2 linked regions of the Homo sapiens genome follow. The protein of the gene in region 2 purifies or fractionates together with the protein of the main gene of each other region. This does not show direct contact. Each region holds a gene or a part of one and is shown on either strand. Other genes may lie near its edges.

Region 1 (8,008 bases), on a different chromosome or scaffold from region 2:
AGGCTGGAGTGCAGTGGCACAATCTTGGCTCACTGCAAGCTCTGCCTCCCAGGTTCACGCCATTCTCCTGCCTCAGCTTCCCGAGTAGCTGGGACTACAGGCGCCTGCCACCACACCTGGCTAATTTTTGAATTTTTAGTAGAGACTGGGTTTCGCCGTGTTAGCCAGGATGGTCTCGACCTCCTGACCTTGTTATCCACCCGCCTCGGCCTCCCAAAGTGCTGGGATTACAGGCATGAGCCACTGCGCCTGGCCAAAGGCTAACTTTTTTTTTTTTTTTTTTTGAGACGGAGTCTCGCTCTGTCGCCCAGGCCGGACTGCGGACTGCAGTGGCGCAATCTCGGCTCACTGCAAGCTCCGCTTCCCGGGTTCACGCCATTCTCCTGCCTCAGCCTCCCCAGTAGCTGGGACTACAGGCGCCCGCCACCGCGCCCGGCTAATTTTTTGTATTTTTAGTAGAGACGGGGTTTCACCTTGTTAGCCAGGATGGTCTCGATCTCCTGACCTCATGATCCACCCGCCTCGGCCTCCCAAAGTGCTGGGATTACAGGCGTGAGCCACCGCGCCCGGCCCAAAGGCTAACTTTTAAAGAGTGTTGTCTGCATCTACGTTCACATCATGCAAGAGTCATTATTCTGGCCGGACACCAGTGGATCATGCTTGTAATCCCAACACTTCGGGAGGCCAAGGCGGGTGGATCACGAGGTCAGGAGATCGAGACCATCCTGACCAACATGGTGAAACCCTGTCTCTACTAAAAATAGAAAAATTAGCTGGGCGTGGTGGCAGGCGCCTATAGTCCCAGCTACTCAGGAGGTTGAGGCAGGAGAATCGCTTGAACCTGGGAGGCGGAGGTTGCAGTGAGCCAAGATGATGCCACTGCACTCCATCCAGCCTGGGTGACAGAGCAAGCCTCCATCTTAAAAAAAAAAAAAAAAAGTCATTATTCTGTCCTTGCCTTTTTCAGGTCCCCACCTTCTCCCCAGGTCTCATGCACTCGATCTCTCTCACTCCTTTCTGCTTTACAGACCCACAGCCAGGTCCTGCCAATCACTCCCCTCCTTGTTGGAAGTCAGCTACAGGTGAACCAGCAGGGAGAGGCCACTGCCTGCTCACAATCAGCTCATTATCTAATTGAGGAAAAAGGCACAAGCTCACTCAAAAGCAAAATCCAAAGGACCAACAGGAGTTGGGGGCTTCAGGCTTTTTCTTCCCATTCAGGATAGGGTCAATGTCACTTCAAAAGGTATAATTACAAAAGGCTAGAGACCACGCCTTCAGCTTTAAGAGAATAGCAGTACCTTCCATCCTCCAGAAAGCTTTTGGACTTGTGGACTATCCCTATTTAAGACGGCTCATTGCATCAAGGAAACACAGTTTCATTCAATAAACATCAGTCATTTCCTTCAAATTCCCACCGGAAAGCTACTGACATTGTAAACCTTTAGGATTTGAAAGACGCTAAAGTTTAAAGTCGAATCATAAATACTGTTCCAATCCAATCACTCAGGCCCAGAGCTGGTGGGAGTTCTGGATTGCATTTCCGGCTTCACCAGTATCTCTGTAACTTAGCAGCAAGCTACACCTCCACCAGCCTCGGCTTCCTCTTAGGAGAAATGAGAAAACTGGACCCAATCAGTGTTTCCCAAAAGCATGGTGGGCGTCCAATGCAAGATGTCACAGTGCAAGAGAGGACTCTGTGTGCATGCCAATTAACATGTTTTAGTTATTAGTTTACTCTGTCTGGTGAGTAATGTTAGTTTTCCTAATAAATAAGATTTCCTTTTAAAATAAATGCATCCAAATATTTTTAAAAATGAGTCACTTTCACAAAAACCTATTTAGTAAATAAGAGTTCAGGTGATTCTAGCAGCCGTGGCAAAAATAACTGATCTAGAGGCCTGGCGTGGCGTGAAATCCCTGAGTACAGGGGGAGGAAGAGAGCGAAGGCGGCTGGAGTTCCTCGCAAAGAAGCAAGCCCCGGGCACCAGGGTCCGCAGTGACCAGCCGCCGGTCCTCCACGCTTCCAGAGGAGACGATTTGGAACTGACCCGGGAGGGCCAAGAAACACCTTCCGAGTACCAGGCTAAACCCCGCCAGGGAGAGAGACCGGGACGAAGGTCCCAGGCTAGTGCGACACCGCAGGTCGGGGTTCCCTGGTTGGAGGAGCGCGGTGGGCTGGGAGGGGCGCGTTGGTGCGCACTGGAACAGGGGTCCCCGGCTTGAGCAGCGCGGTGAGACAGAGTTCCCGCGCTGGAGGGGCGCGGTGAGACAGAGGTCCTGGGCTGGAGAGGTGCGTTGGGGCGCACTGGAACCGGGGTCCCGGGCTTGAGTGGCGCGGTGGGACAGAGTTCCCGGGCTGGAGGGGCGCAGTGGGACAGAAGATCCGGGCTAGAGGGGCGCGGTGGGACGGAGCTCCCGGGATGGACGGGCGCAGTGGGACAAGGGTCCCGGACTGGAGGGGCGCGTTGGGGAGCATTGGAACAGGGGTCCTGAGCAGGAGGGGCGAGGTGGGCTGGGAGGGGCGCGGTAGGGCGCACTGGAACAGGGGTCCTGGGCTGGAAAGACACGTTGGAACAAGGGTCCCGGGCTTGGGCGGCGCGGTGAGACGGAGTTCCCGGGCTGGAGGGGCGCGGTGGGACAGGGGATCCGGGCTGGAGGGGCGCGGCGAGACCGGGGTCCCAGGCTGGAAAGGTGCAAGTCGAGGCTGGAGGACCGGCGGGAGGGAACCGGGAACCCGGCGGAGCTAAGGGGCGCAGAGTGGGGGTGGGGCCGTGCTGCCGGGGGAGCCCCCTCACGCAGGAAGGACCGGGGCCGCGGACCCCACCGCCCCCACACCCCGTCGTCGCGGAGTTCGGGCCGCCCCGGCTGCGCCCGGGCCCTACCTGTCCTCGCTGGCCGTGATCACGCCGTCCTCCTTGGGGATGAGCAGCGCGGCCGTGACGGCGTCCTGGTGCCCCTCGATCTTGCTCAGCAGCACCGGGCGGCTGCTCTGCGGCCTGGAGTGGATTTCGGCCGCCATGTTCGCGCGGCGACTGCTGCGGCCTCCTCGGCAGGCAGCCCATCAGCTGACGCCTGGGCGGGCGGGGGACGCGCCGGTTTCCCTTCGGCTGCTGGGGCCTCTTGGGCGCCGCGCCGCCGTAAGCCCCCGAGTGCTGCCGCCGCACCGCCCGTATTGCCTGGGGATGCCGCGCAAGCTGAAAGTCTGTGGCTGGGAGAGGATGCCACGGGGCGCCTGCGGAGAAATGGGGAAAGTAAGGAAGGTTTAAAAGTAAAGCCATTCACCCAGGAATAAATTGAGCACCTGGAGGGGACAAGGAATTGTCCCCCAAACCAGAGATTTCAGAAATTACAATACTACATTTCATCCATTTGAAGAAGCCATTGTTTGAAAGGCACACACTTTCAGAAATGTTAAAATGTGAAAAAATATAGTGCATCTTAGAATCTTTGAACTACAATAGATAGCACTGAGTGGTGACCATATACCAGGCATTAACTCAGTGTCTTTGCATCTCATTTAATACTGATAATTTTAAGAGATGAAATAGATGCTCTTGTATTCCCATTTTAGAGATGAGAAAACAACCAGAGAAGTTTGATCACTACCTTAAGGTTGCACAGCTATGAGAGGGAGAAAAGCAGCCCTTGATCTCCAGGAGCTGCCTGGTACTATCAGCTGAGCTTTGGTGTTGCTAGGAAGTGTTTGCTTCCTGTGGAACATAAACATCAGACGAGGCCACTCCATAATCACATCTAAACACGGCCAAAATATGAGCGATGTACAAGCCACAGAAATTACCAAACATCCCCCTATCCTGGCTAATATGAGTGACTCTTATTTCTTTATTAATTATAATGTTAACCGCTATCTAGTCTTCCTCCATTTAGATAAGATTTATTAAGATATGCAACCTTAGAATTATACGCATTTCCTGACAACATCCAGTCCACAGGAGAGCCTCTCTTCCTTAAGCTCTCCCAGGTCACCTAACACAAACACAAATCCTATAATAAAACTGTCCGAACATCCCTTTACCCAGACACCTCACCATTCCCAATGGTGTGTCTTCTCCCTCCAACAAGCAATCAACCCCATTTGTTCCTGGTGGTTTTTGGCTAGAGGTCATTGACAACCAGTAAGTTCAAGAGCCAAAATTTGGACTCAGGAAGTCAATGACTCCAAACTTCTGCCCCACTATATTATTCTGACACCTGAATTGCAGAATTGCATTAGAACCGTACTATCCACATGACTATAGAGCACTTGAAATGTGGCTTGTCCAAACTGAGATGTAGTACAAGTGCAAAATACTACAAGATTTTATAGACTTAGCACAAAACAAAAAAGATGTAATATAGTTCATCAATAATTGTTACAATGATTACATGTTGAAATGATACTATTTTGGATATATTGAGTTAGATACTATTAAAATTAATATGACCTGCTTATTTTTTTAAGGTAGCTAATAAAAACTTTAAATTATGGATGTGAATCAGATGGTACTTCTATGTACAGTGATTTACTAGAACTTTCTTTTTGTTTTTGTTTTGTTTTGTTTTAGTTTTTTGAGACGAACTCACTCCGTCACCCAGGCTGGAGTGCAGTGGTGCGATCTCGGTTTACGGCAACCTCCGCCTCCCAGGTTAAAGGGATTCACCTGTCTCAGCTTCCCGAGTAGCTGGGATTACAAGCACCTACCACCATGCCTGGCTAATTTTGTATTTTTACTAGAGACAGGGTTTCACCATGTTGACCAGGCTGGTCTCAAACTTCTGCCCTCAAATCATCTGCCCACCTCAGCCTCCCAAAATGCTGGGATTACGGGCAGGAGCCACCATTGTACTAATACTTTCTCATGATGAAGTTATTAACAAACATTCATGAATTTATTTATTCCTATATTCAACAGACATATATCGCACACTTACTATATGCTGTTGCTGATGAGATTAATAAGACATGGTTTTTGTGAGGCTGTACAGTGTAATGACTAGACACGCTACTGAACAACTTTGTTTAATCAACCAACATCTCCCAAGTGCCTGCTGTGAGCCAGGTGCCATTCTAAATGCAGCAGTGCTCAAGAGAGACAAAAATCCCTCTGCTGTTAGAACTTACATCCCAGTGAAGGAAACAGATAGTAAACTAAATTATATAATATATTAGAAGATGTTCAATGCTATTAAATGCTATGGAGAAAATAAAGCAGGGAAGGGTGATAGGGACTCTAGGGGATGTTGCGATTTTAAATAGATGGTGTGATAGATTCAGGAATACACTGCACAGATCTGCTTTCAGGGAAGAACAGTGGTCAGCAGAGAGCCTCTAGCCTTCAGCTCCTTCAGGGACTGCCCCAGCTGCTGAGAACCACTGGGTCTCAGTTGTTCCCTTCACAGGGAAGCCCACATTCAGTAACTGAACAAGATAGGAGGATAAAGGCCTGACCATCAAGACAGACCGATGAGCAACACTTGCTCTAGAACTCTCTCCTAGATTGGACAAGGCTTTGTAAGGCGTGTACTGCAGCTGACTTCTCCTGCCTAATCCTGGTACCTCCCCCTCCCTTCACAGGCATTGATTCCTAATAAACACCCTCTGAGCCAACCTCTATCACCGTATCTGCTGCTGGAGAATGCAACCTGAGACAAGTAAAAGCCTCATTGTAAAGTTACATTTTGAGCCAAGAAGGAGAGGAGGGAGTAAGCCATGTGGAAATGTGGGCCAAATACTTTTCTGGAAAAGAAAAGAGCACGTGTTAAGGCATTGAGGTGAGCACATGCCAGGGGTTTTGTAGAGACAGCCAGGCACCCCGTGAGGCTGGAGCAGAGTGAGTGAGGGAGTGCTCAGAGAAAAACAGCACAGACAGGTCACCAGACAGACCATGTTGAGCCCAGAGACCATTGATAAGGGCTTTGGTTTTTACTTCAAATGAGATAGGAAGCCATTGGAGAGTTTCGAACAGAAGGCTGGTTTAATCTGCCTTCAAGTTTTTAAATTTGTATTCATTTATTTTTCGAGACGAAGTCTCACTCTGTCGTCCAGGCTGGAGTGCAGTGGTGCGATCCTGGCTCACTGCAACCTCCACCTCCTGGGTTCAAGTGATTCTCGTGCCTCAGCTTCTCAAGTAGCTGGGACTACAGGCACGTGCCACCACACCCAGCTAATTTTTGTACTTTTAGTAGAGAGGGTGTCACCATGTTGGCCAAGCTGGTTTCGAACTCCCAACCCCAGGTGATCCACCCACTTTGGCCTCCCAAAGTGCTGGGATTATTATAGGCATGAGCCACTGCGCCTGGGCTAATCTGCCTTCAATTTTAAAAGGCAAGAATAGAAGCAAGGTGTCAGTCAGGAAGTTATTTGAGAAATTAACAGGGTAATTGAGAAATGATGTGGCTTTCTAAGGGTGCTGGTGGTGAGAGGACATCAGATTCTAGACTTATGTAGAAGGTAGTACCAGTGAAATTTGTTGAATATTGAATATGAGATAGTTAAGAATGATACCAAGATTTGTGGGCTGAGCAACTGGAAAAGTGGAGCTGCCAGTTACTGATCTGTGGAAAATGTAGGAGGAGCAGGTTTGGAAGGGAAGAAGGAGAATTCAGTTTTGGACATAGGAAGCTTGAGACGAGTATTAGGTCTCCAAGTGAAGGGGCTGAGTAGGCAGTTGAATACAGGAGGTTTTTGTTTGTTTGTTTGTTTGTTTTTGTTTTTTTTGTTTTTTTTTTGAGATGGAGTCTTGCTCTGTTGCCCAGGCTGGAGTGCAGTGGTGCGATCTTGGCTCACTGCAACCTCCACCTCCTTGGTTGAAGCAATTATCCTGTCTCAGCCTCCCCAGCAGCCGGGATTACAGGCGTGTGCCACTATGCCTGACTAATTTTTGTATTTTTAGTAGAGACGGGGTTTTGCCATGTTGGCCAGGCTGGTTTCGAACTCCTGACCTCAGGTGATCCACCTGCCTCAGCCTCCCAAGGTGCTGGGATTACAGGCGTGAGCCACCATGACCAGCCTGAATATAGGAGTTTTGTATATGCTACTGAATAGTAGAGAGGTCTGGACTGCAGCCATTACTCTGGGAGTTAAATGCACAGTGATGGAACCTGCTGTGCCACCCTCTGCAGGGTCAGCAGATGCTCACTGGGTGGTGGTAGAGTTCAGGAGCCAAGTTTATGCTTGATCTTAAGGCAGCAGGATGGTCAAAACTAAGTGAGAGAAAGGCCCTCTACAAATACTTGTTCAAAAATTTTAATCAGGGATTCGCCTGTTAAACTAAATTAAAATGGAAACCAGGGCTGAAGACTCCCCGAAGAGACAAAGCCAGTCAGTCCTCCTAAGTGATCTTAACCTTGCTTGATTTGCAAACATAAGTGAAACTTAACTTGAACTATTTCTTGTAAATGCCTGTATTAAAGAAAAACAAAACTTAAGCTCAACCATTCAGAAGCAGTCAACAGACTTACAATTAAATAACTAGGGATTTTCCCACAGGATAGACCAAATAAAGCCACTTTATAACTGTAATCAATTATTTTCTTTGCATTATTTCTGCATTCACTCTTCCAAGTTTGACCCTTATGCTTCTCCAACAGAGCCCTGGAAACACTTCCGGTTTAGAGCTGTCCGATTCATGAATTGCTGTTTACACAAATAAGCCCTTTAAAATATTATTGTGCCTTGGTTTACCTTTTTTTTTTTTTTCTTGAGACAGAGTGTTACTACTCTGTCACCCAGACTTCAGTGTACTGCTGGGATCTCAGCTCACTGCAACCTCTGCCTCCCCGGTTCAAGCAACTCTTGTGCCTCAGCCTCCTGAGTAGCTAGAACTACAGGTGTGTGCCGATCATGCCCTGGTAATTTTTGTATTTTTAGCAGATGTGGGGTTTTACCATGTTGGCCAGGCTGGTCTCGAACTCCTGGCCTTAAGTGATCCATCAGCTTCAGCATCCCAAATTGTGAGGATTACAGGCGTGAACCACTGTGCCCAGCCCTCTTTTTTTTTTTTTT
Region 2 (7,208 bases):
GGCCATGACCTCCACGTAGTGGTAGGGGCAGCGCCCTCGTTTGAGCCTCTGCACCAGGTTCTGGATGTTGCGGAAGCCGTACGCCATTGCGAAGTGCAGCAGCACCTGGCCCTCCTTCTCCAGTGTCACCTCCTGGAAGTCTTTGTTCCTGGGGGGCACAGGCGGGGTTTGTCTACATGGCACACCCACCAGGCTCCTGCCTGCCTGGAAGGGGAGGCCTGCTGGGCTTCAGGGGATGACCGGGTACCTCCCAGGGCTCTCTCCCTCTCTCCTGGGCAGAGGGAAGGACAAGAACGGAGAGAGAGGGTGGAAGGCTCACTTCCTTGAGTCCAGCAGGGGACCTCACCTCCAGCCTCGGGCTGTCTGTGAAACAGGCCTCCCTCCCCAGGGATGTCTGTGAGGCCCTGGCCCTCCCTCCTGGGATGTGGTCGCGTGCCTGCGCCAGGCACCCATCACCTTTGCCCATGCTGGCCTCTCGGGCTCAGGGTCACCATCCCCCACAATGGGCCGACTGAGGCCTGGAGTGCTTAGGTGCCTTCACACCCTGAGCCCGCCAGGAGGGCCCTGCCTGGCCCCAGGGTCCCCTCCAAACCCTGCAGGCTGCCCTCCACCCAGCCCACCTCTGTGGGAGGACCCCAGGGGAGGCAGCAGCCCGAGGAAGGCTGGGGGCTGTGTGGCCGCTCTGCCCAGAGATCTGGCCCATCCCACTGACCTCAGGGGTTTGTAGGTAACCTCAGCCACATGGATTCCAAAGAGCTCTCGGGCCGCGTGCCGGAACACGTGCTCCAGGTAGCCCCCCGAGCCCCCTCCCCGATGGCTGGTGGGCTCCTCTGCAGAGGCACCGCTGCACCTGGCAAGGAGGGAGGGGCCTCAGCACAGCTGGGGCTGCTGCCTGCCAACCTCCCGAGCAGGGCCTCTGTCCCTCACACATGAGCGTTTGCATTTCCAGGTGGGAGACAAGTCACAGACACAGAGGAACAGCTCCTGTGTCACCAGCCATCACAGGGGCCCAGCCACTTCTTGTTTTTTTTTTTGAGACGGAGTCTTGCTCTGTCGCCCAGGCTGGAGTGCAGTGGCGTGATCTTGGCTCACTGCAAGCTCCGCCTCCTGGGTTCAAGCAATTCTCATGCCTCAACCTCCCAAGTAGCTGGGATTACAGGGCCTGGCATGGATTACCACCATGTCTGGCTAAATTTTGTATTTTTAGTAGAGATGAGGTTTCACCATGTTGGCCGAGCTGGTCTCGAACTCCTGACCTCAGGTGATCTGCCCACCTTGGCCTCCCAAAGTGCTGGGGTGACAGGCGTGAGCTACTGCGCCTGGCTATCCAGCCACTTCTGTGGACGCCAAGATGGGCTGCGGGGAGGCAAGCCCAGAGCAGGGGGATGCTATCCTCAGAGGCAGCGTTAGAAGCTAAAATAACAGTTCTTGGTGGCAGACATACGTACAGGCTGTCCAGAGGGGCTGGTTCCAGGTCGGGGAGGGAGACGCCCTCTTCCTCCAGCAACCTGAAAACTTCTCCTGCAAAGAAGCCACAGCGCAGACACTCTTTAGCGGAGATCCCAGCAACAAAGTCAGAGAACATCCAAGCCACCTGCATCCCCAGCAGTCTGCACTTTGGCCCCAGAAGGCCCCAAATGTCCACCCTAGCCCGTGGTGGGGAGGCCAGGCCCGGTCACTCCTGAAGCCCCTCTGGAGGCTGCCTGGTCCTGCCCAGGGAGGTGTGCCAGCGGCCAGGCCACTCTGCTCACCCAGTGTCCATCTGTCCATCCTCTTAGGCAGTCTGCTTTTCTTTTTTTTTTGAGACGGAGTCTCACTCTGCCGCCCAGGCTGGAGTGCAATGGTACGATCTCGGCTCACTACGACCTCTGCCCCCCGGGATCAAGTGACTCTCCTGCCTCAGCCTCCCGAGTAGCTGGGATTACAGGAGCACCACCACTACTCCCGGCTAATTTTCGTATTTTTAGTAGACATGGGGTTTCATCATCTCGGCCAGGCTGGTCTTGAACTCCTGACCTCGTGATCCACCCACCTCTGCCTCCCAAAGTGCTGGGATTACAGGCGTGAGCCACCATGCCCGGCCACAGTTTGCTTTTCTGCCTCACATTTGGGAGACTGTGGGGCTGCTCGACTCAGGAATGGGGTGACTCATGGGAGCTGAAGAGGCTGCATTCGAGAATCTCTGCCCACCTCCAAAGACTCATTTCAGAGCCAACAAGGAGGTATTACTGAGCGCCACCTGGCTGCAGGTCCCCAAGACAGGCCAGCTGCAAATGGGCCCACCTGGCTCCAAGGGGAGAGACGAAGGTACGTGCACGCATGCGAGCCCCCACACTCCAGCCAGGGCCCCCACAGGCAGGATCCTGGGCAGTCGCCACCTGTGCCCAGGGCTCAGGAATCAGACCAGGAGGCTTGAGGGCTCAGGGCCGCACGGCGTGACCGCACCTGTTGTGAGGACACAGTCCACATCCCGTGTCTGGTGCTCCTGGTTGAAAAAGTCGGGTCTGGAGGCTTCCAGCTTTTTGTCATAGCAGGGCATCACTGTGACGTGGTAGATCTTGTCAGGGGTCAAGTGCTACAAGGAGAAACAAACACTTGTCTCCCCAATCCCAGCAGTAAGGTGGCTGAGACGGGACCTGGAACTCAGCCATCCTGCAGCCAGGCCGGACCCCGAGGGACAGTGAGCCTCACTCCATTTCCCAGCAAGCCTCCTGCCGGCTCTGCGGATGTGTCCCTGGACAGGACGGGCCCTGGCTGTGACAGAAAATGACACTGACCCATTCCCAGTGTGCCTGCGCTCCCTAACAGCCAAGTCCAGCGGAGGAGAAGTGGCCTTCCCACGGCTCGGGCCGTCTCACTGCACAGCAGCCGGGGAAACGGATGTCACGGGGGAACCAACCAGCTCCAGCCCCGGGTGAAAATCCGCGTGCAGTCAGGCAAGAGGTGCCGCAGGGGACATGGGCGCTCGAGGCCCAGGCACCACCGGGGCCGCCCTCGCCCTCTCCCGCCCCCTGCTGGCTGAGTGTCTTCAGGCTTCTATCCCGCTGGGCCTCAGGTGGGGGTCGTGCTGGGCATCCTCGTGGACCTGGTGGCCGGAGGGGTGGGCTCCAGGCCCGGACTGCCCAGGGCCTCCTGCTCCCTCAGCCTCAGGCCTGGCTGCCTCTGGGTGAGCAGTGAGCACCTCTGGATCAGAACGAAGCCCTCTGCTGCAGAAGAGGAAGGGCCTGAACCAGGAGGGAACAAGGGTGGAGGTGTGCTGGGGAAGGCCGCACAGCACAGCGAGGACTCTGTTTCCTGCAGCCTCATGGCAAGAGGCCAGCAAAGTCACTTCTGGCCGCTCCCCAGCCTGAGTCTGGGGCTGGCCCAACGCCGTTACCTGCTGCTGGGCGAAGAAGTCCTTGACCAGGGAGCCCATGACCTGCTGCGGGGACCGGGCGGTGCTGATGTGGGGGAGGATGAAGCTGCCGTGAGTCTTCTCGGCATAGCAGATCCAGCCTGAGGTGACAGGGGGCACACGGGGCTGGCGGGGGCGCACGGCGGCCCCCGCACCCACAGGCAGCAGCACGACATTCTGGGGGCGGGCCCGCTCATACAGGAGATCATGATGACATTAAAGAGTGCTCATTCCTGTTCTCCCCACCACCACGCGGAGCTCGGCGTGCAGGCGACACCGCCTAGGGACCTGAGGTGACTGCGCGTGGCTCCCACGGGAGGGCAGCCTCTTCTCCAGAAAAGGCCATTTGTGCCAACATTTCCAACCCGTCCCGCAAAACCTGCTTGCGTCTCCACCCCCCATGCCCCCGCCTTGTCATTTGTGTCCATATCACCTCACGTTTCAACTGCACTTGAACTTGACTCTCCCACCACCCGCACCATGAGCACACCTGGGCAGGCAGAGGCCAGCAGGGGCAGCGCCTGTCTGCAGTCGGCCTGTCCTCGGAATCGCCGCACAAACTCTCGCTGGCTCTCCAGGAGGCTGAAGTGCCTTGAGAAGGCGGTGTCGAAGACGAAGTGCACCCCTGGAAGGTGAAGGTGGGTGCCTGGTTAACCCCATGCGGGACGCCCACACGAGCACACGCCGGCGTGTGGACCACCATGGTGCTGCCAGGGCACGTGTGTCGCACCTGCTTGCCGTGCCAAAGCCCCGGCCCCACCGTGGGGACCTCCTAAAGCCACGTTGCGCCAAAGCCCCAGCCCCACTGTGGGGACCTCCTAAAGCCACGTTGCCTCGGCATCCCCTGTGAACCCAGGCCTTGGTTTCCCACCCCAGAGGCAGCCACCCAGCAGCTCAGTCCTCCACCCTCCCAGCTCTTCAGCGTGGCTGGTCCAGGGAATTGCCACGTGCGCTGCTCCCGGTGACCCTCCCTAGGGCACAGCTGGACGCAGCCTGCTGGACTGGCCCCTCGGACCCTGACTGTGCAGACCTACCATAGTGGCCACCCCTCACACACAGCAGGACTCCTGGAACACGCCAGCCAGCTCCAAGCCCAGCCATTAGAACTGCTCAGTAAACCTGCCTGATCGTGCCCTGGACCCAGCAGAGGCACCCGCGTGTGGGTCCCTCTCTCTCTGCCTGACTTGTCATTCCTCCCTCGCGTAACCCGTGGTCGGAGGACTCGCTGTGCCCCACTTGCCCGTCATCATCATCTCTAAGTAAAAATCTTTGAACTTGCTTCCTATTCTGGTGGGGACGAAATCCACACCTTCCATCTGGAGAACCATGGGCTGCCCCAGGCCAGGTTTTCCCTGGGACACCAGGTCAGGCTCCCAGTGCCAGAGCACTGCTCAGGCACCAACTGGATATGGGTCAGACAGGAGCCATGGGGCACCTGCCAGTGTCACCAGGTTTCCAGTGTGAGGGACCTGGGACACAGCTGGATGACAGGCAGTCTGCTGGTTACAAGGCGCACAGGCCTGCCTCACTGGGAATGAAGGGACTGGACATGGTGGTTACCTGTGAAAGGCACACAGTAACCATGAGGTCCAGCCCCTTCATTCCCAGTGAGACACCAGGCACTGGAGCCTAGTTAGCTGGGGGCTCTCAAGACACCCAGATCCTCCCCAAGCCCAGCTCCAGGCACATAACCAAAGTCAGCAGAAGCTGACCTTGGCTGAACCCAACAGAGCCCCGGAGAGAGTGCCTTAATATTATCAGCTAAAAAGTACAAGGAGTTGGTCAGCCCCAGCTTAGAGAAAGTGCACAGTCAGAATGCAGACGTGTTCTGTGAGAAGGCCCTGCTCTCAAATGTCAAATCAAAACTTCAGGCTGAGGTCACAGAGGGAATAAAGTTTCTGTAGCGCTGAAGTTCAGGGCTGGGTAGCGTGTCAGTGACTCAGAGGCGCGAGGGGCCTGGGCTTACTCAGACGCCCCCTTGATTTGGAGCGGCAGTGTTACCCCAGGTTCAAAGCCTACCTATTTTTTTAAAGAATGAGGTTAATTTCCTGGCAGTATCTGTAGGATTCAGCTGAAACCGTGCAGCCAGCGATGCTCTAGACTGTGGTGAGACCGAAACTACAACCAGCCTCTGCTGACTGGGTGCCGCCATCTGCAAAGCAAGGGGAAGACGCTGCTTACTCTGCTGGCCTTATGCTGATTCCTGGTGGCCAGAGCCGCACGGTGAGATGCTGTCAGCTGTGGAGAGGGCAGGCCAGCTCCATCAAGAGTCTTTTTTTTTTTTTTAACACAGAGTCTCACTCTGTTGCCCAGGCTGGAGTGCAGTGGTGCGATCGGAGCTCACTGCATGCAACCTCCGCCTCCCAGGTTCAGCCTCCTGGGTAGATGGGATTACAGGCGTGAACCACCGTGCCTGGCCAAGGGTATCGTTTTTTTTTGATGGAGTCTCACTCTATCACCAGGCTGGTGTGTAATGGCGCAATCTCGGCTCACTGCAACCTCTGTCTCCTGGGTTCAAGCGATTCTCCTGCCTCAGCCTCTCTAGTAGCTTGGATTACAGGCATGTGCCACCACACCTGGCTAATTCTTGTATTTTTAGTAGAGACGGGGTTTCACCATGTTGGCCACGGTGGTCTCGAACTCCTGACCTCAGGTGATCCACCCGGCTCAGCCTCCCAAAGTGCTGGTATGACAGGCGTGAGCCCCCGCGCCCAGTAGGGGTGTCATTTTGATGTATATTTAGAACCTGAAGTTTGGGGCCTGACACGTTCACCACTGGAGCCCACTGACAAATCACCAAGATTCCAAGCCTCAAAAAGGCAGGCGCCACCCGCACGACGGACGTCGGCACCACACGAGCTGCCCTTGGCAAAACGCGTTGTCGGCTGCTGGGATGGATTTCAGGTTAAAGCAGAGTCACCAGGCCGACCACTGCTTACCTTGTTAGCATCTAGAACCTTCTTCAGCTCCTCGTGGCTCTGCTGGGTGATAAGCACGGTCTCTGCGGAGGTGATGCAGCCGCTGCACGCCAGGCAGTCGTTTAGCGAGACCTTGGCCTTCTCCAGCCTCCGGGTCCCGCCGTCCTACAAGGGAGAAGAACCCGGTGCACAGGGGCCCCCTCTGCACGAGGACATGGAGACAGAGGATAGTGGAGTCCAGCTCATAACCGACAACCAACATGGCTGCTGGCTGGGCTTGTGTGCCGCTGAATTTTTAAAAATTAGGTATGTATTACAAAAATGCACACGCACGCTCTACAGTTTCATAATGCCGTCAAGTCTGCTTCTTGGTACCACTTGGTTAGTGCATCCGAATCACAGGACTAAGGCTTGCCACTGGTATCTCAGCAAAGCAGCAGCCACCCCACTCACCCATGGGGCCCTGGACGGGGTGCTGGCCCCGGTGCACACTCACAGGGCTGTAGGGCAGGAAAATGCCGAAGGTGGGCTCTGAAAGGAGGAGGCGGGAAAGCTGAGGACAAAGGAGGAAAGGACGAAGGCACAGGAAGAGGAGAGCAGAGGGAGGAAGCCTGGGAGCCTGGCCTCCGGTGGGCGGGGCAGAAACAACCGTCAGACTCGCCAAACAGATGCAGGAACAAGGTGTTCCAGTCGGGGGCCTCCGGGACATGCCTCAGCAACTTTTCTTACATGCAAAACGCACCCAGCTCGAGCTCCCCCAACTTCTCCTGCAAAGGCAGGAATGGTTTGAGCAGGGCCAGGGGTGCTGCAGTGGCCCGGAATACAGCCAGAGGAGTAAGGCGACTGGGTGGGAACTGTGTGGGAACCCCTCGCAGCCCAGCTCTCTGCTAGGCCTG

The links. Proteins that work in one complex are often made in the same cells at the same time.
Region 1: the proteins of CIAO3 (region 2) and WDFY1 purify together in Homo sapiens (affinity purification with mass spectrometry; 2 studies listed by BioGRID and IntAct, with this or other methods). This does not show direct contact.

What each region holds. Positions count from the first base shown.
Region 1 is NC_000002.12:223,942,263-223,950,270, forward strand, and holds the start of WDFY1 (WD repeat and FYVE domain-containing protein 1), read right to left. Parts: upstream 3,074-8,008; 5' UTR 3,023-3,073; coding exon 2,886-3,022; intron 2,294-2,885; exon of another isoform or gene 2,217-2,293; intron 2,146-2,216; exon of another isoform or gene 962-2,145; intron 1-961. UniProt on the Homo sapiens protein: Positively regulates TLR3- and TLR4-mediated signaling pathways by bridging the interaction between TLR3 or TLR4 and TICAM1.
Region 2 is NC_000016.10:730,853-738,060, forward strand, and holds part of CIAO3 (cytosolic iron-sulfur assembly component 3), read right to left. Parts: intron 6,478-7,208; coding exon 6,334-6,477; intron 5,547-6,333; coding exon 5,414-5,546; intron 4,020-5,413; coding exon 3,885-4,019; intron 3,496-3,884; coding exon 3,377-3,495; intron 2,576-3,376; coding exon 2,446-2,575; intron 1,522-2,445; coding exon 1,449-1,521; intron 851-1,448; coding exon 713-850; intron 149-712; coding exon 1-148.